7 linked regions of the Homo sapiens genome follow. The protein of the gene in region 7 purifies or fractionates together with the protein of the main gene of each other region. This does not show direct contact. Each region holds a gene or a part of one and is shown on either strand. Other genes may lie near its edges.

Region 1 (4,037 bases), on a different chromosome or scaffold from region 7:
TTATCAACATATTCATCTAACAACAAAAAAACTATACAAAATATACGGTAGTATCATGCTGTGTTTTTATAATTCTCAGTAACCCTCTGCATAGCTTAATTCCCATACCCTGAGCCTATAAGCCTATATCAACAGCCAAATCGAATATAACTTCACTACAATGTCTTTATTACACAAAAGAAAATGATAATTCACCTTCTCTCAATGACTCTCCAGAGCTGGCGCCAAAAGTCCAAATTTCGTTCAAATGGAGTCAATATCAGCTTCTGTTCCTCTTCTAGCCTAGTTTTTGAATGAGAAGTTTATATATTTGCCAGATTATAATAGACAATTTTTAGCAGTGTAAATGCTCAAATTTATTACATTAAAAATAAGTACTGGGCACAAATATCCAGAGTCAAATTATTTTATATATTTCCTGCTGAGACACCATAAAAATACTATTTATTTAGACAATACTCCACCAAATTCAAATTTTATCCTGAAGCTATTTATGCCCTGGAAGTTTACCTATCACACAAAGTCATTTCTTTCCCACACTCTTACTGGAAAAATGTGCAGGAGAGCAGCGATCAACTCCAGGATGCCCAATGGCCAAAGAAGGGAATGAAAGGAAAAGGCCCGGAACTGAGCAGAGTAACCAACTCACGATCTCTGTGCAAGGATGCATTTGCACCTAGCAATCTTGTTTGTGCATACATCTATTTGCACTTGTTAGCAGAATGCTACCATTTCCTTCTTAAAAGAATCAAAACTTCAAAACACAAATGGCTGTGTAAGCATGCCAAATATCTGAACTCAGGATTTCAAAGTAAGTCTTCATAGAGTCTATAATACTCACCGGACAAGCTGACGTCTCCATTCTAGAAAGTTATCTTTCTCTGCTTGTTTGAGTTCTTCTGGGGTAGTATTTTGGTTCCAGTTTGGTCTGAAACAATCATAGAAGGAAAAAAATTCCTCATATAAGTAACCAAAATAAAATAGGTAATTTGGATCTAATAATGGCAGCTGAGAAAAAGAAGCAATTTAAAAAATGAATACTCAGCAGCCTCGGATGTTTTGTGGCATTCTAAATTCTTCTTCAGCTCACCTCCTCGGTATACACAAGAACTGTTTGTTTTCTTCATGGAGCTTCTTAATTCTCTGGCTCTCCTCGAAAGACAGTAGTCCAGTTCTAGCCTCAGCAGGCACAAACTTAATATTAAGTTTCTCTGTTCAAATAAAGAAAAGTACTATTACTTAAGAGGCAGTATAGATACAGAGTGTTTGGTCATACTGATAAACTGAGAAAACTAAAAATGAGAGCCTAAGAGAACTTAAGATTTCTTGATTTAGATTCTTCTAGCCTTGGGTAAATTATTATTCCCAAATGAAGTTTTATACCAAATAACTATCCAGAGTTACTACATTCTTTTTGACTGCCACACAGTATTTCATACTGTGTCTATATCACATTTTCCCTGCTATTGAACATTCAGTTTCCAAGTTTTCATTATTAAAATACAGCATCATCTGGTAGCTTGTTAAAAATGTAAATGCTGCAGCTCTAACCCCCACTCACTGAATAGATGCTCTGGAGTCTAGAGGATAGGGCCAGGAATCTGTATGAAAGAGTTCTCCGGGCAATTCTGCTGCTCTGGGGTAGATGCTGAGAAGTAGAGGTGCTGGCTCATAGGATATGAAACTGTAAACTTGCTTTCTTTGTCTTCTGTTTTTTTTTTGAGACAGAGTCTCACTCTGTCACCCAGGCTGGAGTGAAGTGGCACAGTCTCGGTTCACTGCAACCTCAAACAATTCTCCCAACTCAGCCTCCTGAGTAGCTGGGACTACAGGCCCGCACCACCACGCCCGGCTAATTTTTGTATTTTTAGTAGAGACGGGGTTTTGCCATGTTGGCCAGGCTGGTCTCGAACTACTGACCTCAGGTGATCCGCCCGCCTCGGCCTCCCAAAGTGCTGGGGTTACAGGCATGAGCCACCGCACCCAGCCTGCAACTGTAAACTTCGAACAGATACTGCCAAAACAAATCTTTCCAACTTCCCTCTCTACTGTCTCACCCCATAACCTAAGAACATACTACCATTAACCCTGATCCTTCTCATACACACCCTTACACTTCTCTTTCCCTGCCATAGTCAGCTATCTCAGGAGAATACAACTTGCTCATTCCTTGATTTCCTCACCTCCCACTTCCTGTTTCTCTAGATTCCAGCTGTGGCTCTCTCACTCCACTAAAACTGTTCTGGCAGATATTACTAATGACTTTAAGAAGAAAATAGCAGCCAGGTGCGGTGGCTCACGTCTGTAATCCCAGCACTTTGGGAGGGCAAGGTGGGCGGATCACAAGGTCACGAGTTCGAGACCAGCCTGGCCTACAAGGTGAAACCCCCGTCTCTAGTAAAAATACAAAAATTAGCCAGGGGTGGTGGTGCATGCCTGTAATCCCAGCTACTCAGGAGGCTGAGGCAGGAGAACCGCTTGAACCTGGGAGGCAGAGGTTGCAGTGAGCTGAGATCGCACCACTGCACTCCAGCCTGGGCGACAAGAGAGAGACTCCGTCTCAAAAAAAAAAAAAAAAAAAATATATATATATATATATATATATATAGCTTTACTACAATATGATTCACATACTATACAATCCACCCACTAAAGCATACAATTCAATAATTTTCAGTATATTCACAGAGTTGTGCAGCCATTGCCACAATCCATTTTAGAATATTTTCATCACTCCAAAAAGAAAGCTTTACCCATTAGCAGTCACTGTACACCCCCAGGTACCTGGTGGAAATCATCTACTTTCTGTAGATTTGCCTCTTTAGGACTTTTTGGTGTTTCCACTTTTTGGTGATTACGAATAATGCTGCTATGAATACACATGCACATATTTTTGTGTAGACATGTTTTCATTTCTTTCGGGCATATACCCAGGAGTGGGACTGCTGGATCAGATGGTAATTCCATGTTTTACCTTTTGAGGAACTGCCAAAATTTTTTTATAAAACAGCTACACCATTTTATACTCCCACAGCGATGTATGGTGTTATAATTTCTCTACATCCTCACCAACATTTGTTATAGTCTCTTTTATTTTAGCTATCCTAGTGGGTGAAGTGGTTATTTCACTGTGAAACCCAGGAGTTTATTTTTGTCCCTTCACTCTTTTTCACTTACACTACCCTCTCCATCAAGTCTGGTTTACTCTAGCTCCTTAAGTGTTCTTGTTCCTCTTATTTTCTCCCTTCTTCTACTACCTGTATTTCAGTTCTGGCCTATTTTGCTAGACTAAAGTGATACAGTCTCCTAACTCATCTTGCTTCCTTAAAATTCATCAGTGATCTTTTAAAAAATGAAATCTCATGTACCCATGAGACATACCTGCACTCCCATGTTCCCTGCAGCGCTATTCACAAGAGCCAAGATATGGAACCAACCTCAATGCCCATCAACGTATGAATGGATAAAGAAAACGTGGTATATGTAGTATACAATGGAATACTATTCAGCATTACAAAAGAGGGAAATGTTGACACTTGTGACAATATGAATGAACCACTCTGCTATGAGAAATAACCCAGGCACAGAAAGACAAATACCACATGATCTCACTTATACGTGGAATAAAGCCGAGCTCATAGAAGCAGAGAGAAAATGGTGGTTACCAGAGATTAGGGAGTGGGGCAAATAGGAGGATACTGGTCAAACGGTAAAGTTTTACTGAGGCAGGATGAATAAGTTCTGGAGGTCTAATGTACAGCCTGGTGTCCATAGTTAATAATAACACATTTATTAGTTAATAATATGAAATTTGCTAAGACAGTATATATCTTGTTCTCACCGCACACACAAAAAAACAATGTGAGGTGATGGATACGTTAATTACTTGATTTTAGTAATCATTTCACAATATATACATATAACCAAACGTCACACTATATACTATAACTATATACAATTTTTAGTTGCCAATTGTGTAGCTCATTAAAGCTGGAACCCACACATCCCCCCAAAAAACACTAAACAATGAAATCTGA
Region 2 (4,480 bases), on a different chromosome or scaffold from region 7:
TGTTAACTTCCATTCTTAAAGGAGGAACTCAAATCTGATACACTTTTTATATTATGTGCTTTTCTTCCACAGTAGGTAATCATTTAATTAATTAATTAATTAATTTTTGAGGCAGAGTCTTGCTGTTGCCCAGGCTGGAGGGTAGTAGCACAATCTTTTCTCACTGCAACCTCTTCTCACTGCAACCTCCGCCTCCCAGGTTCAAGCAATTCTCCTGCCTCAGCCTCCCAAGTAGCTGTGACTACAGGTGCCTGCCACCACGCCTGGCTAATTTTTTGTATTTTTAGGAGAGATGGGGTTTCATCACGTTGGCCAGACTGGTCTCAAACTCCTGACCTCAAGTGATCCGCCCACCTCAGCCTCCCAAAGTGCTGGCATTACAGGTGTGAGCCACCACGCCTGGCTCACTTATACTCATTCAGCAAATAATTATTGAACTCCATTTACGTACCAGACACTGTTAATTGATGTTACTCACTTTTCCTTTCAGAACTAAAGCCTTATCAGTTGTGTGTTGAGATAGGAAGAGGAGACTTTTTCCACTTCTTGTGTTTCCTACAGTTACTCCCTTCCCAAACTGATAAAGTATACAGTTTATAAAAATCTTAAAAACTCATTCTTACTGGTAAATTCATTTTAATAATGAGGGGAAAAAACTTTAGTTATTAAAAACAAAAGAATGAATACACATACACACACTAAATGTGGCAGATGTTTCCAGGAGAGATTAGCAACAGAGAGGCCACATGATCAAATAAAATTTACACTTTTGATGGGATTGTCCCCTCGTGGCCACCCAAGTGTTTGTGGAAGAAAGTCTGGAGTTGTTTCCAAGCATCCACCTGAGCCATGGCATGAGCCCTGGGCTCCCCTCCCCAGATAATAGGACTGCCCACCAAGGCATGCAGGGAAGCCCGACACAGGGGGAAGTAAGGAGGCTCAATATAGTGCCCTGTCTCTGGGTAACAGATGATCTGGGGCTTTCTCCTCCCATGGGCCTGCAAGCGTTTACAGGCCTCATTAGCATAGAACTCACTCTTCCAGTTGTGGTCATCCTGACCTACCAGGAACAGGAAGGTGCTCTCTGCCCTTTCCACAGGAATGAAGCTCTTCTGGTCAGGTCCTTCCAAAGGGCTGTTCAGGACATCCACAATGTCTGCATAGCCATCTTTGGTCACCTTGATGCGATTTCTGTTGACGCCCACAGGGGGCAGGGTCTCGCCCTTGTAGTGTAAGGTTCCCCCAACATTGGCCACAGAGCCGTTGATGACGACAGCAGCCGTGATGCCCTTCAGGAAAGAGGCCATGGAAAGGCAGAGCTCACCCCCTTTGGAAATTCCAAGCAGCCCAACTCCTGGACCTTTTACCTGAGAAAGGGACAAAGGAAAAAGAAGAAGAATGATTCCACAAACAGTGGAATATGGTGAGTTGTGTCCACCCTGGAAGTTAGTTGAACCTGAGTCTGAATCTAGGTTCTACCATTTACCCAGATTTGCAACTTTGAGAATTTACCTCCCCTCTATCTCTTCCTTTCCACAATTTGTCCATCACCACTCTTGGTGATAACCATGTGGAAGATCTATCAATTATTCTCTGGTTTCTCAGTTCCTTAATCTCGTATCTCCCATGATCTTTTTCTGTCTCCCACCTGAGCCACCCATTCCCACTGTCATAACTAAACTGAGTCATCATCAACAAGTACATCATCTCATGGCCGGGAGTGGTGGCTGACGCCTGTAATCCCAACAGTTTGGGAGGCTGAGGCGGGTGGATCATTTGAGGTCAGGAGTTTGAGATCAGTCTGGCCAACATGGTGAAACATCTCTACTAAAAATACAAGAATTAGCCGGGCAGTAGTGGCACGTGCCTGTAGTCACAGCTACGTGGGAGGCTGAGGCAGAAGAATCAATTGAACCTGGGAGGTGGAGTTTGCAGTGAGCCGAGATCATGCCATTGCACTCCAGCCTGGGTGACACAGCAAGACTCCATCTCAAAAAAAAAAAAAAAAAAATACTGGAATTTAAAATTGCATAATAACAACTACGAATCTCTTTACTAGCAGGAAATATAGTAATATAGAATTGAATAGAAACTGTCTATAAGAGGCCAGGTGTGGTGGCTCATGCCTGTAATTCCAGCACTCTGGGAGGCCAAGGTGGGCAGATCACTTGAGGTCAGGAGTTTGAGACCAGCCTGGCCAACATGGCGAAACCCCATCTCTACTTAAAAAAAAAAAAATACAAATATTAGGCTGGGCATAGTGGCTCATGCCTGTAATCCAGCACTTGGGTAGGTCAAAGCAGGTGGATCATTTGAGGTCAGGAGTTCAAGACCAGCCTGACCAATATTGTGAAACCCCGCCTCCACTAAAAATACAAAAATTAGCCAAGCATGGTGGCAGGTGCCTGTAATCCCAACTACTCGGGAGGGTGGGGCACAAGAATCACTTGAACTTGGGAGGTGGAGGTTGCAGTGAGCCAAGATCGCACCACTGGACTCCAGCCTGGCAACAGAGTGAGACTCCATCTCAAAAAAAGAAACTGTCTATAAGAAGTGACTAAAAAAGGTAGTGTGTGTTGGGGTAGGGAATGGCTGTCATGAATGAGCTAACTTCTGTGAAAACCCAGACCATTTAAGAAGAGACCTGATACATCATAGCCCATAAATCTGAAAGAAGAACTAACCTCGGGATGACTGAGCAAGTAGTTCATGGCTTCTTCAAAGTACTCCAGATGGAGCGTCTCCATGGTCTTGGGGAGGTCTTCATAGTTATAATAAGCCAGAGCCATCACAGCAAAACCCTTCCCAGCCAGCAGACTAGCCCGATACTCCAGCAGGCCACCTCCAGTTCCGAACATGTCCACAATCCCAGGAAAGGGCCCAGGTTCTTGGGAAGAAACAAAACAAAATGCAAAACTAAGCTATTCCTGAAACAGTTGGATGGTTTAAGTTAAACATATACTTACCACACATGTGACCCAGCAATCCCACTCCTAGGTATCTACCCACGAGAAATGAAAACCTGTTCGTCCAGAAACCTCTGGCAAGTGTTTATAGTGACTTTACTCGTTGTAGCCAAAGACTGGAAACAACCCAAATGTCCTTTAACTGGTGAATGAATCCATTTAATGGTGCACCACCAAGAAACAAAAAGAAAGACTGCTACATAGAAGAGCACAAATTCCTCTCCAGTGCACTCAACAGAATGCACTTACTCAACGGAGACAGACTCAAAAGGCTACTCATTCTGAATGACTCCACTTACTGATATTTTTATCATTTACATTAAAGGTTTTGTGTTTCACACAAAATTAAATAGTAATAATGCAGGCTGGGTCCGGTGGCTCACGCCTGTAACCCCAGCACTTTGGGAGGCTGAGACGGGTGGATCACCTGAGGTCAGGAGTTCGAGACCAGCCTGGCCAACATGGTGAAACCCCATCTGTACTAAAAATACAAAAATTAGCTGGGTGTGGTGGCGGCCACCTGTAATCCCAGCTACTCGGGAGGCTGAGGGAGGAGAATCGCTTGAACCCGGGAGGTGGAGGTTGCAGTGAGCCAAGATTGTGCCACTACTCCAGCCTGGGCGAAAGAGCGAGACACTGTCTCAAAAAAAAAAAAAAAAAAAAAAAAAATGCAAACACCTTACAGGCAACACTTTTAAGACATAGTTCAGTGCTGATACCCGCAAACCATCAACGTCCCACAGACCCCTGTGCCCTTTCCTCTCTTTCCAGTATCCTGGACTTTCTGTGTATCACTCTTGGTTTTCTTCATAGTATTACCACTTAGATTATGTACCTTAATATTTTATTTTGCCTAGTTTTTGAATTGTATCTAAATGGAATGATACTGAATGTGTTCTCCTAGGGTTTGACTGTTTCACTCAACAGTGGTTTGGAGATTCATCCATGTTGATTCTTTTTTTTTCTTTTCTTTTGTATATCTTGATAGATGTTGATTCTTGTAGCTGTAGTTCAATCACTTTGACTGCTGGAAATATACCTCAATTTATTAATCTGTTCTATTGTTGATGGACATTTGGACTGTTTCCAGTTGACTTTGCTCTTTTTTTAAATTAATCCAGACTGCTCATCTGGCCTCTTATAAGGAATATGCCTCCTGGTGCACATGTACAAGTAGAATAACATATTTAACTTTGTAAGTTAAGACAAATTGTTGCCCAGAGCAGATGAATATGTTGCTCCTTCTAGCAGTGAGTTTCATTTCCTCCACATACTGGTCAGCAATTGATAATGCTAGCTTCTAAAAGTGGGCCACTTCTGAGGGTGTGAAATGTACTCTGTTGTTTTATTTTGCATTTCTTTGATTATTAATAAGGATAAGCATCATTTCATTTTTACACTGGCTGATTGCTCTTTATGTAATATAAAAGTATCCAGTAACCTCAAATTTCCATTTGACAGGAAGAGGTTTTCCTATTGTAAATGCTAATTTACATAAATCTTAACATACTGTG
Region 3 (4,037 bases), on a different chromosome or scaffold from region 7:
TTTTTTTTTTTGTATTTTTAGTGGAGATGTGGTTTCACCATTTTGGCCAGGCTGGTCTTGAACTCCTGACCTCAAGTGCTCCACCTGCCTCGGCCTCCCAAAGTGCTGGAATTACAGGCGTGAGCCACCACGCCTGGCCTATTTATTTTTTGATACAGGGTCTTGCTCTGTCACCCAGGCTGGAGTGCAGTGGTGCAACCATAGCCTACTGCACCCTCGAACTCCTGGGCTCAAGATATCCTCCTGTCCCAGCCTCCCAAATACCTGGGACTACCGGTGTGTACTACCATGCCTGGCTAATATTTTTATTATTTACTTTTTGTAGAGATAGGGTTTCATTGTTTCCAAGGCTGGTCTCAAACGTCTGGTCTCAAGTGATCCTTCCACCTTGGCCTCTCAAAATGCTGAGGTTACAGACATGAGCCATCACACCTGGCCAGTAGTCTATTATCTGTTCTTCTTCAGCACAGTGTGCCATGCTATACCTCTGCTTAAAACCTACAACAGTCTCTCAGTGACCTTAGAATAAAGAGCAAAATCCTGACCGGGTGTGGTGGCTCACACCTGCAGGTCCAACAACTTTGGGATGTGGAGGTGAGGAAATTGCTTGAGTTTGAGACCAGCCTGGACAACAGAGTGACACCCCATCTCTATTAAAAAAAATAAAATAAAATAAAAAAAAGACCAAAATCCTTAATATGGCCTACACAGATCTGCATGACTTGGCTCCTGCCCATCACTCCGAAACCCTTCAGCACCACTTTCTCTTTGCTCTCTGAGCTTTTCACACCACCCTTTTGCAGCCTTCAGTTCACACATACTGTTCCTTAAGCCCAAATGCTTCTCTTCTGCTCCTGTTCCCATGCACCTTTGCCTTGCTGACTGTTATTCATCCTTCAGGTCTCTGCTGTAAACACTCCATGAGGCCTGCCTTGAAGTCCCTACCCATCCTCCACCACTGGCTAGATGACAGCTATGTGTCATACGCTCTTTTCATATTCTACATGTTTTTTAAGTTAATTTTTTTAAATCAAAGTAACATATGTCCACAGTTTAAAAAGTCAAATGGTACTATAAGGTTTATGCTCCCCACCAAAAAAGGGCCAGCAGTGCCTTACTTCAACCTTCTCTTATCCCCCAGGCCCACTCCCTGTACGCAACCATTTTCAACTCCTTTTTTTTTTTTTTGAGATGGAGTCTCACTCCATTGCCCAGGCTGGAGTGCAATGGCACGATCTCGGCTCACTGCTACCTCCACCTCCTGAGTTCAAGTGATTCTCCTGCTTCAGCCTCCCGAGTAGCTGGGATTACAGGCACATACCACCACCCTCAGCTAATTTTTGTATTTTTAGTAGAGATGGGGTTTCACCGTGTTGGCCAGGCTAGTCTAGAACTCCTGACCTCGTTATCCGCCCACTCCGGCCTCCCAAAGTGCTGGGATTACAGGCGTGAGCCACTGCGCCCAGCCTTCAATTCCTTTTAACTGTTTCTCCAGTATCCTGCATGCTTCCTCAGTGATACCCAGATCTGTCTTCAACATCTGTCTTCTCAGCTGGGCTAAAATAGCATTAAAACAGAGATCAACCACACATGTCTGTTTGACTTCTGTATCCACCATTAAGTAAAATGCCTGACACTCAATAGGCATTTTATAAACATCTGTTAAATGACCATAGCTTCACAAACAACATCTGAGATTAAAAAAACAAAAACATAAACACACACACACCAAAAGTGGCCTTAAGAGTTAAGGTGTATTTGCGTAGATGTGTCACTTTGCAGATGACTTGCAAAATTTCCTTGATATTACAAATTTATAAATATTTCTCACCTGACTTAGCTGAAACATCAGAGGAATTTGTACTTTTGGAAAACGAGTTCTGTCCTACAGATTAAAATAAAGCAATATAATGTAAATGGGGAAAATATAGTCATCCTCAATATACAACAACCAGATAGCAAAGAGGTCTGAAAAAAAGTATGAGTATTCAATTTCCCTCAGTTAAGCAAAATGGGAAAAGCCACATCCATGATAGTTCTCATGATTTATGGGCTTGAAAATGTATCTCACCAGGCTTATGTATTTCTGGTTTTTCTTCATCATCAGCTTCTCCACTGTCCTCAGCATCTTCTTCAACTTGATTTCTGAACCTTGGTTGGCTCCACTCTGTAGCAGTATTGCTGTAACTAAGAGAAAATAATATTATTCAATAAAGAGCTATGCAAAGACCAACTTAACATTCAAGACAGTAAAGGAAAATTCAAACAACTAAATTATTTCTTACCCAGCATTCAGCTTTTTTCTGAAATCTTCTTCTTCTTCTTCCTCTTCCACCTGGGTTGCTGTCAATTCGGCTGCCTTCTCTACAGCCAGTTCACTTAGTTTTTGAGCCAGTATTAATTTCCGAGAGCGAGAAGCATATTTAATGGCTAAATTCACAGCATTTTGAGTCATTAGATCAGCAAGTTCCACACAACGGAATTCTCGCTCCAGTTTACAAGAAAGCTAATCCAAAAAGGGGGGGGGGGGGGAGATCAAATAACATCAAGTAAAACTTTTTAAAGATACTGACACTACTAGTAAAACTGAGACAATAGTTTTCTAGCTACTCTATCTCCCTAATTCTAAGATGCACATTTTTACAAGTTTTAACATCTCTGAAATTGGAATTACAATTAATTACAATTAATGGTGGGTCAGTTTGGCAGCATTTTTATGTCTCCATGGCTTAAATGAATAAAGTAATGGTGCACTATGCAATAAACAGTGGCTTAGATTTGATGAAATATTACATACCACTTTAATCTACTAATTGCAAGAAAATTAAGAAATTTGTTTAAAAAATTCAAGGGGGAGGCTGGGCACGGTGGCTCACGCCTGTAATACCAGTGCTTTGGGAGGCCCAGATGGGTGGATCATGAGGTGAGGAGTTCGAGATCAGCCTGGCCAATATGGCAAAACCCCGTCTCTACTAAAAACACAATTAGCCAGGCGTGGTGGCGTGCGCCTGTAATCCCAGCTACTCGGGAAGCTGAGGCAGGAGAATCGCTTGAACCCGGGAGGTGGAGGTTGCAGTGAGCCAAGATTGCACCACTGCACTCCAGCCTGGGCGAGAAAGCGAGACTCTGTCTCAAAAAAAAAAAAAAAAAAAAAAATCAAGGGGGCCAGGTGTGCTGGCTCACACCTGTAATCCTAGCACTTTGGAAGGCCAAGGCAGAGGGACTGCTAGAGGCCAGGAGTTTGAGACTAACCTGGGCAACACAGTGAGACCCTATAACTACAAAAAATAAATTAGCTGGGCGTGGTGGCATGCACCTGCAGTCTTATCTACTCAGGAGCCTGAGACAGGAGGTTCACTAGAGCCCAGGAGGTTGAGGCTGCAGTGAGTTACAATCTTGCCACTGTACTCTAGCCTGGGTAACAGAGTGAGACCCTTTCTCTAAAAAATACAAAAAAGAAAAACAACAAACTGAGAAAAGTTGGTATTTTGAAGATTACTAAGGGTCTCCTAATTCATAGTGTATTAGAACTATTTTCTTACTTAGATATTCCATGTCTGATCCATCAGCACAAAAGCTTTAGATATTCACCTGGATGCCCTTTTCAAGATTTTTAGTATCATTTATCTATAATCAGTACTTCTTAATCGGGATGGTACACTGCCTCAGGGGGCATTTAGAAATAAAAAGGAAGCCGGGCGCAGTGGCTCACACCTGTAATCCTAGCACTTTGGGAGACTGAGACAGGTGGATCACAAGGTCAGGAGATCGAGACCATACTGGCTAACACGGTGAAACACAGTCTCTATTAAAAATACAAAAAATTAGCTGGTGTGGTGGCAGACAACTGTAGTCCCAGCTACTCGGGAGGCTGAGGCAGGAGAATGGCGTGAACCTGGGAGGCGGAGCTTGCAGTGAGCAGAGATCGCGCCACTGCACTCCAGCCTGGGCAACAGAGCGAGACTTCGTTTCAAAAAAAAAAAAAGAAATAAAAAGGAATAGTCTGGTTTCCACAGTGACTATTCTGAACTAAAGGC
Region 4 (4,037 bases), on a different chromosome or scaffold from region 7:
TTTTAAAAATCTTTGCCTTAAAATTTAGGTTTTATCAGCAAGGGAAAATGTAAGATTATATGTATTAAGTGAATAAGAAATTAAGCACATATAAATGTATTTTCATACATTTACTGAATTCAAAACATACCTAATACCAAAAATCACAATGTCTTTATGAGGTAAAGGCACTTAATATTTCTAAGTTATATTTTTGTAAAGCAGGTACAGGGAATCAGGTTGCATAGCCTCCAGTACCTACTGATGTCATGAGTCCAGGAATTTCATTTGTAGTAAGGAGAACATAAAGCAAAACAAGAAGTCGTGTCAGCTGTTATCTGAATAAAGTAGAATATTCTCTGTATTTATAATTAGAGTTTGTGTTAATATCTTCTATATGACTAGAATACCTACTTTATTTAGATAAGGGGAATACAGCCATTATTTTGTCTGCCATTCGATTATGATGGACTGTCATATTTTGATTGAATATCTAGTATTTGAGATGGCACCAGGTTTGGCAAATTCTTACTGAAAAAAATGTTGCACAGAGCCAACTATTTGTATATTTTGTTCTTTGGTTTAATTTTAACTGCCAGTTACAGTTCAATTAGCCGGACGTGGTGGCATGCACCTGTAGTCCCAGCTACTCAGGAGACTAAGGTGGGAGGATTGCTTGAGCCCAGGAGGTCGAGGCTGCAGTGAGCTGTGATTGCACCACTGCAATCCAGCCTGGGCAATGGAGCAAGACTTTGTCTCTAAGTTAAAAATAAAAATTTAAATAAAAAGAAACAGTAAAAATATATAGTTCATATTACAAACTTTGCAAATAAAAACAATGAAGAATTTTTTTTCTCTATTTTCATCTTAATGGTAAAGGCATCTATTTTTTAAATTTAACATCTTCCTCTATATTTATGTTTCTTGACCTCTTCTTTTTTTCTTTTTTTTTTTTTGAGACAGAGTCTTGCTTTATTGCCCAGGCTGGAGTGCAATGGCGCGATCTCGGCTCACTGCAACCTCCGCCTCCTGGGTTCAAGCAATTCTCCTGCCTCAGTCTCCCTTGTAGCTGAGATTACAGGCAGATGCCACAACACCCAGCTAATTTTTGTATTTTTAGTAGAGACAAGGTTTCACCATGTTGGTTAGGCTGGTTTCGAACTCCTGACCTCGGGTGATCCGCCCGCCTCAGCCTCCCAAAGTGCTGGGATTACAGGCGTGAGCCTCTGTGCCCAGCCTCTAGACCTCTTCTTTTATCCCTTTCAATTTTCCCTTCCAAAAGAGAACAAGAATAAAGAAAAATGCTTCATAATTGTCATTTTGGAATGAAACAGTTGAGCTATTTTTATTACAGTGTATTTTGGTTATTGAGTGAATTTATATAAATCAACAAACTAGTTCTTAATTACTCTCATAAAATGGTTGAGTAGGTATCACCATATAAATTAATATAATGTTCCTGTGAATTTTTTCAAATATATTTGGATATAAGGCAAATACCTTCAAATAATGACACTCATTCCGGTTTTGTTGTATTGATTTTGTTATTTTCTAGGTTCCATCTGTCTTGCTTGCTCCAAGTCATCTAATGGCTCTTCTGACGCTTGGAATTAATTCTGCCATGGTCCTAGATTGTGGATATAGGGAAAGCCTGGTGTTACCCATATCTTTTTTGTCAGCCAGCCACCTTTGCAGTTTTTACTCTACTTTAACTAAAATAATTAGGCTAATTATAAATGATTTGTATTGTACTGAACTATTTTGGGTTACTATGTACAAATATGAATTACAATGTGGAAAAAGTTCACAGGATTATAAGACTTAAGTTTACTTTTTGTAGAAGTTATTATTGTTTGGTCCCAGGATATACTCCAGGAGTATACCTCATGAATATTATGTTCAGTTTTTAAAAGAAAAATCAGGATGTGTCAAGTTGACTAGAATAGTCAAGTTTTAAGAAAAAAATCATACAAAGAGTAATTGGAGAAACTGAAATGAGTATGTTCGATCCAGAAAGATTTCAAAACTTAATGGCAACATGAAATCAGCCTTCAAACAGCTGAAGAGCTCACTGGCCTCTGTAGTCGCAGCTACTCAGGAGGCTGAGACAGGAGAGTGGCGTGAACCCGGGAGGCGGAGCTTGCAGTGAGCCGAGATCATGCCACTGCACTCCAGCCTGGGCGACAGAGCGAGACTCTGTCTCAAAAAAAAAAAAAGAATACGTTTTTTCTTTTCTTTTTTTTTATTTTTTAAATCTCCAGAGGCTTTCGTGAAGGCAGTATGCCTTAATGTTTACAAGCTTGGGTTTTAGAATCAAATACACAATAAGTGCAATGCAAATCTCAGCTAAGCTTTTTACTACTTGGTCAGGTAGCTTAATCTCTTCGGGCCTCAGTTTCTTTATCTATAAATTGGGGATTATAATATTTCCATCTCATAGAAGAGTTGTGTTAGTTGAGTGAGGTAATATATATAAAGTGTTCAGCATAGGATTTGGCACATAGTAATTTTCTCAGTACGTGCTGTGGTTTTTATATCATTGACCATAGGCAAGAACTTACTAATAATTCAAGCTGTCCCAAAATTGAATTACTGACCGTATAAACTAGTACATTTCTTTTCATTATAAATATTTAAGCAGAGTATAGATGAGCATCTCTTAGAATTGTCCTAGTGGACATTGCTTTATTGAAAAGGATGTTGACATGCATGAATGTAAGACTTGCAATTTTGAGATCTACATGTATATTTATTAGAAAAAATATTCATGGAAGGAAATTAAGCATCATTAACTCCTAAGGAATTTAATCAAGCAGTAGTGTTTTTTAGTATAAAGTACTTTGTGTTTAATTCTTAAAACAACCATGCAACATGAGTATTATTATTCTCCTTATATAAATGAGAATATTGACAGTTGGGATGGGTAGTTGACTCCTCTTCTTATAAACATGTAGCCAGGATATAAACCCATGTTTGTTTCCAAAGCTGATGCTCTTACCAGTATACTTAGCAAACCCACAGTAAATATTGTTTACTTCCCTCTCAGCTCCGTCCTGTAGAAATATAATGTGGACCATGTATGCAATTTAGAGTGTTCTAGGCTGGGTGCCGTGGCTCACACATGTAATCCTAGCACCTTGGGAGGCTGAGGTGGGCAGATCACCTGAGGCCAAGAGTTCGAGACCAGCCTGCCCAACTTGTCAAAACCCCATCTCTACGAAAAATACAAAAATTAGCCGGGTGTGGTGGCACATGCCTGTAATCCCAGCTGCTTGGGAGGCTGAGGCACAAGAATCACTTGAACCTGGGAGGTGGAGGTTGCACTGAGCCGAGATCGCACCACTGCACTCCAGCCTGGGCTACAGAGCAAGACCCTGTCTCAGAAAAAAGTTAATAGAGTTTTCTAAGAGCCACATTTTAAAAGGCATGAGAAAAGATGAAATTAATAGTATATTTTATTTAACCCAATGTATTCAAAATATTCCAATATTCCATCAATACAAAAATTATAATGAGGTATTTTAGTGAGGTTTTTTGGTATTAAAACCTTCTAAATTTGGTGTGTAGCTTAGTCTTAGAGCACATCTCAATTCAGACTAGCCATATTTCATGTATTAAGTAGCTGCACAGGCCTAGTGGCTACTTTATCAGATGCCCCAGCTGTATCTAATGAATTGTGTGTGGTCATGTGCTTATGTGTATTTTTATTCTGTTTTCTTTGATGAAGAACATGAAAAAAAACTTACTCTTTGATTTTTCTGTAACTATGTTAAAAATAAGAAATAAAAATTTGTCACTAAAGCATATTTAGAACAGTACTGCAGAAGGTGAGGAAAATATCAAGGAAACCACATTTTATCTCCTAAAATAGTAGTATCCTTGACTACTCTATAGATATATGAAGGAATCCCAGTTCTAAATTGTTGGGGAGCACTACCCCTAGGAGGAAAAGCTCTTCACAAGTAAGTTTCTTGGAATTTAACATATTCATTTCACCTGTGCCACAAAAACAGTTGCTAATCTGTTTGTTGATCAGTGATCAATAGAGGGCTTGTGAT
Region 5 (4,037 bases), on a different chromosome or scaffold from region 7:
GCACCACATTAAAAACTAAACTTCCAGCAAAGATAGTGTGCTCAAAAGTATAATCTGGTAAACTCTGAATGACTAGCAAATCATGCTGTACATATAATCAATTTTTTTTTTTTTTTTTTTTTGAGACGGAATCTTGTTCTGTCACCCAGGCTGGAGTGCAGTGGTGCGATCTCGGCTCACTGCAAGCTCCGCCTCCCGGGTTCACGCCATTCTCCTGCCTCAGCCCCCTGAGTAGCTGGGACTACAGGCGCCCACCACCACACCCAGGTAATTTTTTTTTTTTATTTTGAGTAGAGACGGGGTTTCACCCTGTTAGCCAGGATGGTCTCGATCTCCTGACCTCGTGATCCGCCTGCCTCGGCCTCCCAAAGTGCTGGGATTACAGGCGTGAGCCACCGTGCCCGGCCCTAATCAATGTTTTTTAATTCAACTCACCATCAAGGTTCTGTCAAACCTGTACAAAAATAGTCCACCCAAGACAATAAAAGGTGATGCTTCCTTTGGGTTCATCTGACCAACTCACATTAAAATGACCACCCATCCAAGTCAACTGATGTTCATTCTGTAGCTGAAAAACCTCCCTTTCATTTTAACACTGAAAAATACAAGATGCGTACTATTCTAGAAATATGCCTTTAAAGCTATCCAGATGGAAATATGTCATTTCTTAGATACATATTTTAAAATCTATAAAATGTAAGTAAATCTCACTAGCGAACACTACAAAGACTTAAAATCATAAAATATTTAGGTCAAAGAAATAAGTTAGAATTTTCCCTACTGGTCAGAGTTTACTTTCACACCTCAGTCATTCATTCTTCAGGCTATAAGATCTATGAGAAAACTGAAAACAGATGACAGAAAAGAATCATTATGTTAAGCAAATAATAAATGAACAAGTAGAAATCACTGAGTAATTATTTAATCTTCAAAGATATGCATTTTTTTCTTACTTTATTCCTATGAATAATCCTGCTCAACTCAAACTTCTGACTGTTCTAGGGCCAGCAAGTACATATTTGTTGATCAAGTGACCCAGGCCCTTTAACAACTTGAGCAAAATGTATGCTTTAGCCACGTACACCCTCCGACTCCCTGGTTCTTGCCTTAAAGTCAAAGTCACATCACAATATGTCTCTTACCTGTTTCCCATCCAACGTGTACAGGCGTTTCACCACTCCCGAGTCCAGCTTGATGGCATCGGTGATATCGGTGAGGACCTGCTCAAAGGAATGAGCCGTTTTCTTGTTCAGCAGAATCCTGACAGCTTTCCGTGGCTTCACGCCACTTCTGATGATGGTGACCAGCTTGGGCCGAATGAAATCCTTATTCTCTCGCACCTCTGAAGGGCTTCCTTTGGCAGTGGCCAGTGAAGACACTGCCCGAGAAGCCGAGGTGGTCTTGACGTTCACCGACCAGTTGGGGTTCACATTCTTGGTGTACTCCAGTTTCTTGAAGGGCTCTATGGAGCCACATACATAACTCTCTCCTAAGGAAGAGAGAAATATATTTAAATTTATACTAAAATATGCCCATTTCTTTTTTCCTACTTATCCTCTCTTTTGCCTTTTCTGCTTAGGGGCAAGAGCTAGCCCTGACTTTTCAAACAATGGAAGTGTGATTAATAATTAGGGAAAAAGAAAGATTTCTGATTGCTAATCTGGCACTGTCAGCAACAGATCCACATCCTGGAAAAACAAAACAAAACATTATTCCTCCATTTCCTCATCTTAAGGTCGGTGATAGAAATGCTGATCTACTTGAAAAGACCTTAGAGAAGTGTGAAAGTGAATTTAAAATAGAAAATATTCTTTGGGAATTAGAGATACTTAAATCTGCAGAAAATTTCAAAATTGGAAGTACCTCCATTTGCTACCTGAGATAATTTAAACACTAAGAATGAATCAGAATACAGCATCTTAAAATAGTCATATAATTTACGAATTTGATGAGAGTTGATGCTAAAGATTTTGTAAAGCCCAGTAAAGTTCCAAAAGCAAGCAAATAATCACCCTTCCTTTCTCTCATCTATATAGTGCCAATCACAGTGATCCACACATACTATAAGGTCAATTCATACTTGTTCATAAGTAAGAGGTTTTAGAAGTGTTCAACATACAAACTACAGCTTCAAAAATGGGCTCTAAAATAAATATAAGTAAATGTTTATTAAAAGTGACTCCTTAGCAGGAAATCTTTTAATGAAAATAATCAGACTATTAAGTAGATGTAGATCACACACACAAAAAAGAAAAACATGAACCAAGAGACAACAAATTGTAAAATGACGAATTCTAAATACATATTTCATAAAGTTAGGTCAAAGCCTTTTGAAATTAAAGATTTTGTAATGGCTTTTTTTCTGTGTTAATAAGTTTTTGTAACTAGGAATAGGTAAAAATGCTGAAAGACCTTCATAATTGTAGGTAAAATGACCGAGGCCTAATCTAACACAGCCCATTGACTTTTATCTAAGTCCTTGTATTATTTTTAAATTCACAGTGCAAGCATCCAAGGCCAAAGAATAAGTAGTCACATAAAAATAACTGAAGCAGGCCTTCAAAAGTTAAAAAGAGCAGTTATACATGTTACTGAACACTTGTTTTGCAGATGTTCTTAAAATATTCTCTAATGTGTATACATACACATTATGCCTCACTAGAAGTTGTATGAATAGTGCAAGTTTAACCAACCCCATTTCTATTCACCTGGCAGATCATGACTTGTCTCAGCTATGCCTTCCTCAGGATTTAAGTAAATATCAAAAACTTATATGTATTTTTGATATTTTCTTAAATCCTGAGAAAGGCATATTTGGGTACTATAGAAACAGCAGTGTTTTGGGAGTTTTCATGGAGTGATGACCTGCACATGATAGTGGGAAGAGAGAACTGGAAATTCGGGCTCAAGACCTGGCCTCTCCAAGCATGTGACTTTGGACAAGTCCCTCAGATTTCTGGGTGGTAGTTTATTTATCTATAAAACAAAACCTCATTAGGTTTTTCTGAAGATCAAATTAGAAGATAGAGATCAAAGTGATCTCAAATACAAACCTGCTATGTGAGTGAAAATGACCTGAGGCTACATACCCTAATCGTGCAGTAAGCCTGAAAGAAAAATTCAAAAACAAAATTACTAGAAATCGGTAAGCAGGTCTTATATTGAACAGTTACCAGTGGACACCACGTTGGGTCCATGTCAATGTGAGAATGCCCTAACACTCCCCAGTGAGACACACAGCATGTAACTGAGCTGGCAAAGCTAGCCTCTGTCAGAATTCTGTGCTAACTGAAGATATGCAATTGTCTGATTATTTATAAGTTTCTATACTAAGCTAATAACTAAAAGCAAAACAAAGATACAGAGAGCAGTTTACATTTCAACAAAAACTTTAAAAATATATTAAATTAGAAGAGGGAGCAGTTTTAAAGAACATAGCAACATGGAGTGAGTTTGTTAAAAGAGAAAATAAACACTTTTTAAAAATATCTTCTTAGATAAAGCACCCTGAAAATGTTTAAAAGCATAAGAAAGTTCTCCAGTTACACTGAGAAGGCGTTGCTGGTTTGGTTCAAGCAACAATGATCAGAAGAAATATGTGTTTAATCTGAGCTGTAAATGTGAGGCTCCTCTGCTGGATAATCAGATTTAAAGACTGGAATGAGAATCTTAGAGAAGGATGTGAGACTCCAGTAACAGATGATACTGTGCTAACAGGAAAGCAACAGCTAAAGGAAGGAGAAGGAGCTGCCACCAAATCCAAGATCACACACCACAGTCATTTAGAGTCTGTGACACTATTCAGGAATTCAGGAAAGGCCCAGATGGATTTCCTTATGCTAATAAATTTCCATTGATTTCCTTATGCTAATACATTTCCATTTTATCATGAAAAGAAATTTCCATTAAATCTTTTTAAATCTATGTATTAACTATTTTTACAGTAATCATAACACTGAACTTCTCTCTGCCACAAGAGATGTGGTTCCCGCCTTAATGCAGTTAAATTAAAGTTGGTTGTATTTTCTGATTTTGTA
Region 6 (4,037 bases), on a different chromosome or scaffold from region 7:
TTGCGCTCCTTGATGAGGGCAGAGGCGCCGTGGGCTGTAAGCACCTCCACACACTCAGTAGAGCCGCGCTCCGTGGCCAGGAAGAGTGCGGTCCGGCCCTTGTGGTCCCTTACGTCCAGATTCACCAGCGTCTCCGCCAGCGTCTTCAAGGCTTCACAGTGACCGTTGTAGGCCTGGCAAGGTGCAGGCAACCAGTGCACACAGCTCGGGACCTTCCCTGCTCCTCCCTTCCCCTTCTCTGCTCTTGGGGTCCCTGGGAAGCTCAAGGTCTTAGTCCTTGACAAGCTCCTTGGGCCCCTTAAGGCTTCCTACCCTGCACTGTGCTTATCCCCTCTCCCACAAAAAGGCAGAAGGAAGGATAACTTCACAAGTGCTGGCACCTTTGTTAGGGCCTGGGAACAGGTAGGACAAGGAAGGCAACAGAAAAAAGACGTGGGACTCACAGCTAAGTGCAAAGGGCTGACTGGAATGGTGCTCTCCACATCCTCCAGGCAGTTAAAGGACATTTCTAAGAGCTGCAAAGGACAGGAAAGTAGGTGCTGAGACTCTGGAACTCCCAAGATAGTACCCCAGTCCCCGACTCGCAGTAATCCCCACTAAGCCTCTGGATCCAAAGACCACATTTGATTGAACCCTTAGTTTTGGAATCCACAAACCCTGTGCCCTGCCCCTGCCTCCCCTCCTGCAGGCCGGGCCCCAACACATACCAGTTCGAGGTTCTGTCTGTTGCCATAGGCGGCTGCATAGTGCACAGCTGTGTAGCCCTGCCTGTCCCGCAGGGAGGGGTCTGCACCGTTATCCAGTAAGAACTCCAGACAGCTGGGGAGCCGGGGGTAGACTGTGAGGCAGGGACAGGCCCAGCCCAGGAGGGCACAGTTCTGGGAGGGCCAGAGGAGAGGACCAAGGCCCTCCAGGCCTACCTGGCCGCCACCCGTCCTCAGCTCTAGGTAGGTTCTCTAAATCCTACCCATTCTTCAATGGCAGCTCCAGACCCACTTTACCTTCTCAAGGTCTGCCCTGAACCCCTCTGGCTTCAATGCCCTCCTTTATCCTCTGAATGCTCTCCTAGAGAACCTAGAGCATGATGTTCAGTTATCAGCCTTCTGCTGACCAACATGCTTTCCCCACCTCCAGGCACGCCAACCCCTGCCCTAGGATGCTTTCTCCTCCCAGCCCACCCGAATAAGTCCTGTTCATCTCAAACTCAGTCCCAGCTTCTCTCCTCTGTGAGGCCTTTCCCAGCCTTCCCTGGGGAAGATGCCTCTTCCTCTGTGCTCCCTTGGCAGTCTTCTCATACCTTAGTAGTAGTTGTAGTAGTAGTAATAATAATAAAGTAGCACTTACTGTCAAGCACAGTTCTAAGTACTTCATGTATATTAAATAATTTAATCCTCATAAAGATCCCATGAAGTAGATACTATTTTTATCCTTACTGTGGGTGATGAAATTGAGGCATAGAGAAGTAACTTGCTGAAGGTAATAGCTGAGCCTCTTGGATTTTAGTGTCCTTTTTAAAAAAATAAATCTTAAAAAAAAATTATTTAATTTACTTATTTTAAATGGAGACAGGGGCCTGGCTCGGTTGCTCACATCTTTAATTCCAGCACTTTAGGAGGCTGAGGTGGGCAGATCACCCGCGGTCAGGAGTTCGTGGCCAGCCTCGCCAACATGGCGAAACCCTGTTTCTACTAAAAATACAAAAATTAGGCTGGGCGTGGTGGCTCACGCCTGCAATCCTAGCACTTTGGGAGGCCAAGGCAGGTGGATCGCCTGAGCTCGGGAGTTCAAGACCAGCCTGGGCAACATGGTGAAACCCCGTCTGTACTAAAATACAAAAAATTAGCCAGGCGTGGCAGCGTGCTCCTGTAGTCCCAGCTACTCAGGAGGCTGAGGCAGAATTGCTTGAACCCAGGAGGTGGAGGTTGCAGTGAGCCAAGTTCATGCCACTGCACTCCAGCCTGGGCAACAGAGTGAGACTCGGTCTTCAAAAAAACAATTAGCTGGGCGTGGTGATAGGCACCTGTAATCCCAGCTACTCAGGAGGAAGAGGCAGGAGAATCGCTTGAACCCCGGAGGTAGAGGTTGCAGTGAGCTGAGATCGCGCAACTGCACTAGAGCCTGGGTGACAGAGCAAGACTCCATCTCAAATAAATAAATAAATTAATTAATTTATTTATTTATTTAATTAAATAAAATAGAGATGAGTTCTCATTATGTGTTAGCCAGGCTGGTCTCATACTCCTGGGCTCAAGCAATCCTCCCACCTCAGTGCTGGAATTACAGGCATGAGTCACTGTGCCTACCTGATTTTTGTGGGTTTTTTTTTTTTTTAGAGACGGGGTCTCACTAGGCTGCCCAGGCTGGGGTGCAGTGGCTATTCATAGGCATGATCATAGTGCACTACAGCCTCAAACTCCTGGGTTTGCATGATCCTCTTGCCTTACCTGCACCTGCCTCCTGAATAACTGGGAATATATGCATGTGCCACCGTGCCCAGCAAAAAATAAACTTTTTGTTTTAGAATATTATTAGATTTATAGAAAAATTGTGGGCTAGGTGTGGTGGCTCATATCTGTAATCCCAGCACTTTGGGAGTCTGAGGCAGGAGGATTGCTTGAGCCCAGGAGTTCGAGACCAGTGTGGGCAACACAGAGAGATCCCTGACCTACAAAATAAATTAATTAAAAAAAAAAAAAAAGAAAGAAAAAGAAAAATTGTGAAGATAGTACAGGGAGTTCTCACATAACCTATACCTAGTTTCCCGTCATTAACATCTTACATTAGTATGCATAAGTGTCCTTTTATTTATCTTTCCCAATAGATTATTAGCTTTCGAAAGACAGAAATTTGGGACAATTCATCCTTTTTAAATTTTTATTTAATTTTATTTATTTATTTGTTTTTTTGGAGACAGAGTCTCACTCTGTCGCCCAGGTTGGAGTGGATTAGTGTGATCTTGACTCACTGCAACCTCCACCTCCCTGGTTCAAGTGATTCTCCTGCCTTAGCCACCCGAGTAGCTGGGATTACAGGTGCCTGCCAACATGACCAGCTAATTTTTATATTTTTAGTAGAGACGGGGTTTCACCACGTTGGCCAGGCTGGTCTCGAACTCCTGACCTCAGATGATCTGCCTGCCTCGGCCTCCCAAAGTGCTGGGATTATAGGCGTGAACCACCACACCCGGCCTATTTTTAATTTTAATTTTTTTGAGACAGAGTCTTGTTCGGTTGCCCAGGCTGGAGTGCAGTGGCGTGATCTCGGCTCACTACAACCTCCACCTCCCTGGTTCAAGCAATTCTCCTGCCTCGGCCTCCTGAGTAGCTGGGATTATAGGCGTGTGCCACCACACCTGGTTAATTTTTTGTATTTTTAGTAGAGACGGGGTTTCACCATGTTGGTCAAGCTGGTCTTGAACTCCTAACCTCAGGTGATCTGCCTACCTCAGCCTCCCTAAGTGCTAGGATTACAAGCTTGAGCCACTACGCCCAGCCTCATCTTTTATCCTTAGTATCTAGCACAGTACTTGGAACCTAGTAAGTAAATATTTAATTAATGCTTGTGGAATAAACAAATTATTTTGTACATTTAGCTTTTCTAATCCTCTCAAGAAGACCAGCCGGGCGCGGTGAGCTGAGATCACACCACTGCATTCCAGCCTGGGCAACAGAGTGAGACTCTGTCTCCAAAAAAAAAAAAAAAAAAAAAATCCATTCCTTTAGGGAAGGAACTATGTCTCATACTTTTGGGTTTTTTTTTCCCCCTGAAGCTCCTGAGCTTCAATCTCATACTTTTGTCTTTGCCCACTATGGACTACACCCAGAGGGCTCAAGACACACTGCTGGCTGACCGGCAGGACAGCAGCAGTATAGGGTAGAGGTTCAGATTAGGTAGGAGGACAGTAGGGCCAGAGCTTGCATGGGTTGGGGAAAGCACATCCCAGGGGCCCTCTCTGCTACTCACAAGAAGGCCTCCTTCCTGCGGGACTCCTTCAGTGGCTCGTCCTCTTCGGCATCATGGCTGGAAGGTGTATGGGG
Region 7 (4,037 bases):
AAAGGGGAGAATCAAGTTCCAATAAGATGTTAGGTTGGTTGTTCAAAGTATTTAACCTATTGGAAGAGTTATTTATACTTTAGCATCTCTCTCTTTTTCTTCAAAGCAAAAATTGTTTTGTTTTTCTCTCAACATATTTCTTTGTTCCCCTATTTTGAGGAGTCAGTATTAGGACATTTCATGGACCTGACTTCTAGCACTGTGTTGTTTAGGGGTTTTTTTTGTTTTTTTTGTTTTTTTTTTTTTTTGAGACGGAGTCTTGCTCTGTCACCAAGGCTGGAGTGCAGTGGCATGATCTCAGCTCACTGCAACCTCTGACTCCTGGGTTCAAGCAATTCTTCTGCCTCAGCCTGGCGAGTAGCTGGGATTACAGGCAGGCGCCACTGCATCTGGCTAATTTTTGTATTTTTAGTAGAGACAGGGTTTTGCCATGTTGGCCAGGCTGGTCTCGAACTCCTGACCTCAAGTGATCTGTCCACCTCGGCCTCCCAAAGTGCTGGGATTACAGGCTTGAGCCACCACACCCGGCTGCGTAGCGTTTTTTAAATTCATGTGTGTATTAGCTTGCTAGGACTCTCATAACAAAATACCGCAGATTGTGGCTTAAACAACAGAAATTTATTTTCTGACAATTCTGGAACTAGAAGTCCAAGATCAAGGGTTCAGTATATGTTTGGTTTTTTTCTATAGTCCCCCTCCTTGGCTGTTGATGCCACCTTCTTGCTATGTTCTCACATGAACTTCTCTGTGTGCACATGTGCTTCTGGTGTTTCTCTGTGTGTCATAATCTCCTCTTCTCGTAAGGTCACTAATCCGGTTGCCTTCAGGCCTCATTTTAACTTAATCATCCCTTTAAAGTTTCCATATCCAAATACAGTCACATTCTGAGGTATTAGGAGTTAAGACTTCAACATATAAAGTTGAGGGAACACAATTTAGCACATAACAATGTGTACTTACTTATTGATGAGTCTATTTTTTCAGGAAAGAACGTGGGACCTAGCAGTATTGAGAAGCAATTATATTAGGGCAACTATATTCTTATTTGTCAAGGACAGTCCTGATTTATTTTTATTATCCTGACTTAATAAAAATAGCACCCCCTTGGACTGCCAGAAGTGTTTCATTTGGATGATGAATGATATGGTGATCCTGATAGAAAGCTTCTAGAACCAGAGTTCATGCATTTGAGTCTCAGCTCAAAAAATACATTGCTGCACCTACACTACCTCGGCTACGAAATAGAGGCAGTAACAGTACTTACCCCATGGCTTATTTTAAGAATTAAATGAGTCAGTATGTGTAAGTCATTCAGAACACTGCCCTCCATAGAGTAAGCACTGAGTGTAACACTGAGTAAGCAAAGAGCAGGAGGATTGTATATGTCAAGTGTGATGGTGAATTTTATGTGTCAGCTTGGCTGTGCCAGTGTGCTCAGATCTTTGGTCGAGCATTATTCCGGATGTTTCTTTGAGTGTGCTTTTGAATGAGATTTACATTTAAATTGATCGACTTTCAGTAAAGCAGATTACTGTCTGTAATGTGGGTAAGCCTCTTCAATCAGTTGAAGGCCTGAATAGAACAACAGGATGACTTCCCCTGAGTAAGAAGGAACACACCAGCAGATCGTCTTCAGACCTCACCTGCAACATTGACTCTTCCTGGTTCACCAGCAGTCTGCCTTTGGACTCGAACTGCAACGAACTGCAACTTTTTCCTGGGTCTCCAGTCGGCTGACCTCCCTTGTCAGATTTTGGACTTGCCAAGCCTCCATAATCACATGTGCTAATTCCTTAAAGATAAATCTCTCTTTCTCTCTCTCTCTCTCTATATATATATATACATATACACACACACACACACACACACACACACACACACACACGCACACACACACACACACACACACATACTGTTGGTTCAGTTTCTCTGGAGAACCTAACTAATACAGCCAGTATGCAAGTCAAAACTGTACCTGAAGGATAATTTTTAATTTTTACAAAGTTCATATATTTCTGGATTTTTATCTTTCTATATTCACTATACTCTTTGCCTGCCTATAGACATATCAATTTTAAAAAATGAAGATCCATGACAAGACACTATGGAGGATGAACAGACACTCTCTCTCTCTCTATTATTCTCAATATTAAAAAAAAGAAACCCTGAATTTTGCATTCCCATACCATGTTTTGAAGCAATATTGATGTTATCTGATAGAATTCTCATCATTCATCATTGTGAAGATGAATTATTTTTTTCAGGAAGCAAGAGTAGTAGCCTTAATAAATGTTTAAAATAAAAGAATTCTAAGATTGGTTTTGGTAAAATGAGTGTTGATTTAAAAAAAATTGAATCACTATGCCCAAAACTGAGTCCAAAGCTAAGCAAGCGAGCAGATATATTGGCAAGAGTTCAGCCAAGTTAGAAGACTGGCAAATCACCCTTATGAAACAAAGTTAAACATCTTGAAGAGCAAATAAAGGCTTGAGGTACATCTGAGTAGCAGCTATCAAATTTTAAAAAGGGTTATTGTAGAAGAGATGGAGACCAGCTGTTTTCCAACTCTGCTGAGCTCAGATAAGAACAAAACTGGATAAAAACTGCAATATGACAGATCACTTAGGTCTAGGGAAGTATTTCCTGGAAGTTAACATAGATGGAATGGTTTTTTAGGATGTTCTGGAATACATTCAAGGGATTCTTTAAGGTTGATTAGGTTTACCTTTTCCAGACGTGAAACAAAGTGGAAACTACAGATTTAGATTCCCCAACTGAGTAATCAGCAGAATCACTAGGGTTAGGTGGGGTGAGGAGACTTTAAAAAAAAAACACAGACTTCATTTCTATGAAGTAATAGAGGTAGCTTACAGGATATATTGTTGAGAGTAAAAGCAAGGTGCACAAGAGAATATAGCATGTTACCTTTGGTATAAGTCTAAAAGGGAAAAAGGAATATGTATGTATCCTTATTTGCTTTTTTCCTGCTTCAAAAAGGAAACACAGAAACAACAAACCAGAAACTAATAAAATTAGTTACCTATTGCGGATGGGGTGGAAGATGGGAATGGGATTTCTCTTTGTATACTTTTTGTTTCAGTTTCCTATTGCTGATCTAATAAATTCCCATAAATGTATCTCCTTACAACAGCACAAATATACTATTTTACAGTTCTGGATGTCAAAAGTCCAATATGGGTCTCACTGGGCTAAAGTTAAGATGTCAGCAGGGCTGCATTCCTTCTGAAAGTTCTAGAGGATAATTCATCTCCTTCCTTTCTCTGGCTTCGAGAGGCTGCCTGCATTCCTTGGCTCATGGTCCTTTTCTGCACCTTCAAAGCCAGCAGCACTGCATTTTCAAATCTCTTTGAATCTGACCCTTCTGCCTCCTGCTTTCACTGTTTAGGACCCTTGTGATTACATTCAGGCCCATAAAATAATAGAGAATATTCTTGTTATCTTAAGGTCAACTGGTTAGCATCTTAATTCTTCTTTATTCTCTAACATATTCACAGCTTCTGGCAATTAAGATGTGGACATCTTTTGCCAGGACGGTGGTGGGGCGGCATCATTCTGCCTACCACATCTTTAAAAAATAATCTTAACTTTTGAATGATGTAAATTTATATATATTCAAAAATAAAATGGAATCAAAAATGGGTAATCAAAGCAAACTCTAAAATTGAGTATAAATAGAAACAAATAAGCCTACCTCTATATCAAATGGTAACATAACTATACTGGGGAGAAAAAAAAGAATTTATTCCAGGCCGGGCGCAGTGGCTCACGCCTGTAATCCCAGCACTTTGGGAGGCCAAGGCAGATGGATCACTAGGTCAGAAGATCGAGACCATCTTGGCTAACACGGTGAAACCCCTCTCTACTAAAAATACAAAAAATTAGCTGGGCGTGGTGGCTGGTGCCCGTAGTCCCAGCTACTCAGGAGGCTGAGGCAGGAGAATGGCATGAACCTGGGAGGCGGACCTTGCAGTGAGCCAAGATCATGCCACTGCACTCCGGCCTACAAGTACACCCTT

The links.
Region 1: the proteins of IMMP2L (region 7) and LSG1 purify together in Homo sapiens (affinity purification with mass spectrometry; one large-scale study listed by BioGRID and IntAct). This does not show direct contact.
Region 2: the proteins of IMMP2L (region 7) and ACOT2 purify together in Homo sapiens (affinity purification with mass spectrometry; one large-scale study listed by BioGRID and IntAct). This does not show direct contact.
Region 3: the proteins of IMMP2L (region 7) and WDHD1 purify together in Homo sapiens (affinity purification with mass spectrometry; one large-scale study listed by BioGRID and IntAct). This does not show direct contact.
Region 4: the proteins of IMMP2L (region 7) and ACTR10 purify together in Homo sapiens (affinity purification with mass spectrometry; one large-scale study listed by BioGRID and IntAct). This does not show direct contact.
Region 5: the proteins of IMMP2L (region 7) and DCLK1 purify together in Homo sapiens (affinity purification with mass spectrometry; one large-scale study listed by BioGRID and IntAct). This does not show direct contact.
Region 6: the proteins of IMMP2L (region 7) and ANKRD52 purify together in Homo sapiens (affinity purification with mass spectrometry; one large-scale study listed by BioGRID and IntAct). This does not show direct contact.

Annotation. Positions count from the first base shown.
Region 1 is NC_000003.12:194,665,362-194,669,398, forward strand, and holds part of LSG1 (large subunit GTPase 1 homolog), read right to left. Parts: intron 1,212-4,037; coding exon 1,091-1,211; intron 929-1,090; coding exon 842-928; intron 283-841; coding exon 196-282; intron 1-195. UniProt on the Homo sapiens protein: Functions as a GTPase. May act by mediating the release of NMD3 from the 60S ribosomal subunit after export into the cytoplasm during the 60S ribosomal subunit maturation.
Region 2 is NC_000014.9:73,571,795-73,576,274, reverse strand, and holds the end of ACOT2 (acyl-coenzyme A thioesterase 2, mitochondrial), read right to left. Parts: intron 2,888-4,480; coding exon 2,685-2,887; intron 1,990-2,684; coding exon of another isoform or gene 1,906-1,989; exon of another isoform or gene 1,868-1,905; intron 1,368-1,867; coding exon 762-1,367; 3' UTR 620-761; downstream 1-619. UniProt on the Homo sapiens protein: Catalyzes the hydrolysis of acyl-CoAs into free fatty acids and coenzyme A (CoASH), regulating their respective intracellular levels. Displays higher activity toward long chain acyl CoAs (C14-C20).
Region 3 is NC_000014.9:54,960,667-54,964,703, forward strand, and holds part of WDHD1 (WD repeat and HMG-box DNA-binding protein 1), read right to left. Parts: intron 2,507-4,037; coding exon 2,286-2,506; intron 2,188-2,285; coding exon 2,072-2,187; intron 1,886-2,071; coding exon 1,832-1,885; intron 1-1,831. UniProt on the Homo sapiens protein: Core replisome component that acts as a replication initiation factor. Binds directly to the CMG complex and functions as a hub to recruit additional proteins to the replication fork.
Region 4 is NC_000014.9:58,209,758-58,213,794, forward strand, and holds part of ACTR10 (actin-related protein 10), read left to right. Parts: intron 1-1,534; coding exon 1,535-1,642; intron 1,643-3,873; coding exon 3,874-3,941; intron 3,942-4,037. UniProt on the Homo sapiens protein: Part of the dynactin complex that activates the molecular motor dynein for ultra-processive transport along microtubules.
Region 5 is NC_000013.11:36,110,727-36,114,763, forward strand, and holds part of DCLK1 (serine/threonine-protein kinase DCLK1), read right to left. Parts: intron 1,490-4,037; coding exon 1,143-1,489; intron 1-1,142.
Region 6 is NC_000012.12:56,248,052-56,252,088, forward strand, and holds part of ANKRD52 (serine/threonine-protein phosphatase 6 regulatory ankyrin repeat subunit C), read right to left. Parts: coding exon 3,964-4,037; intron 820-3,963; coding exon 708-819; intron 516-707; coding exon 444-515; intron 174-443; coding exon 1-173. UniProt on the Homo sapiens protein: Putative regulatory subunit of protein phosphatase 6 (PP6) that may be involved in the recognition of phosphoprotein substrates.
Region 7 is NC_000007.14:110,666,901-110,670,937, reverse strand, and holds part of IMMP2L (mitochondrial inner membrane protease subunit 2), read left to right. Parts: intron 1-4,037. UniProt on the Homo sapiens protein: Catalyzes the removal of transit peptides required for the targeting of proteins from the mitochondrial matrix, across the inner membrane, into the inter-membrane space. Known to process the nuclear encoded protein DIABLO.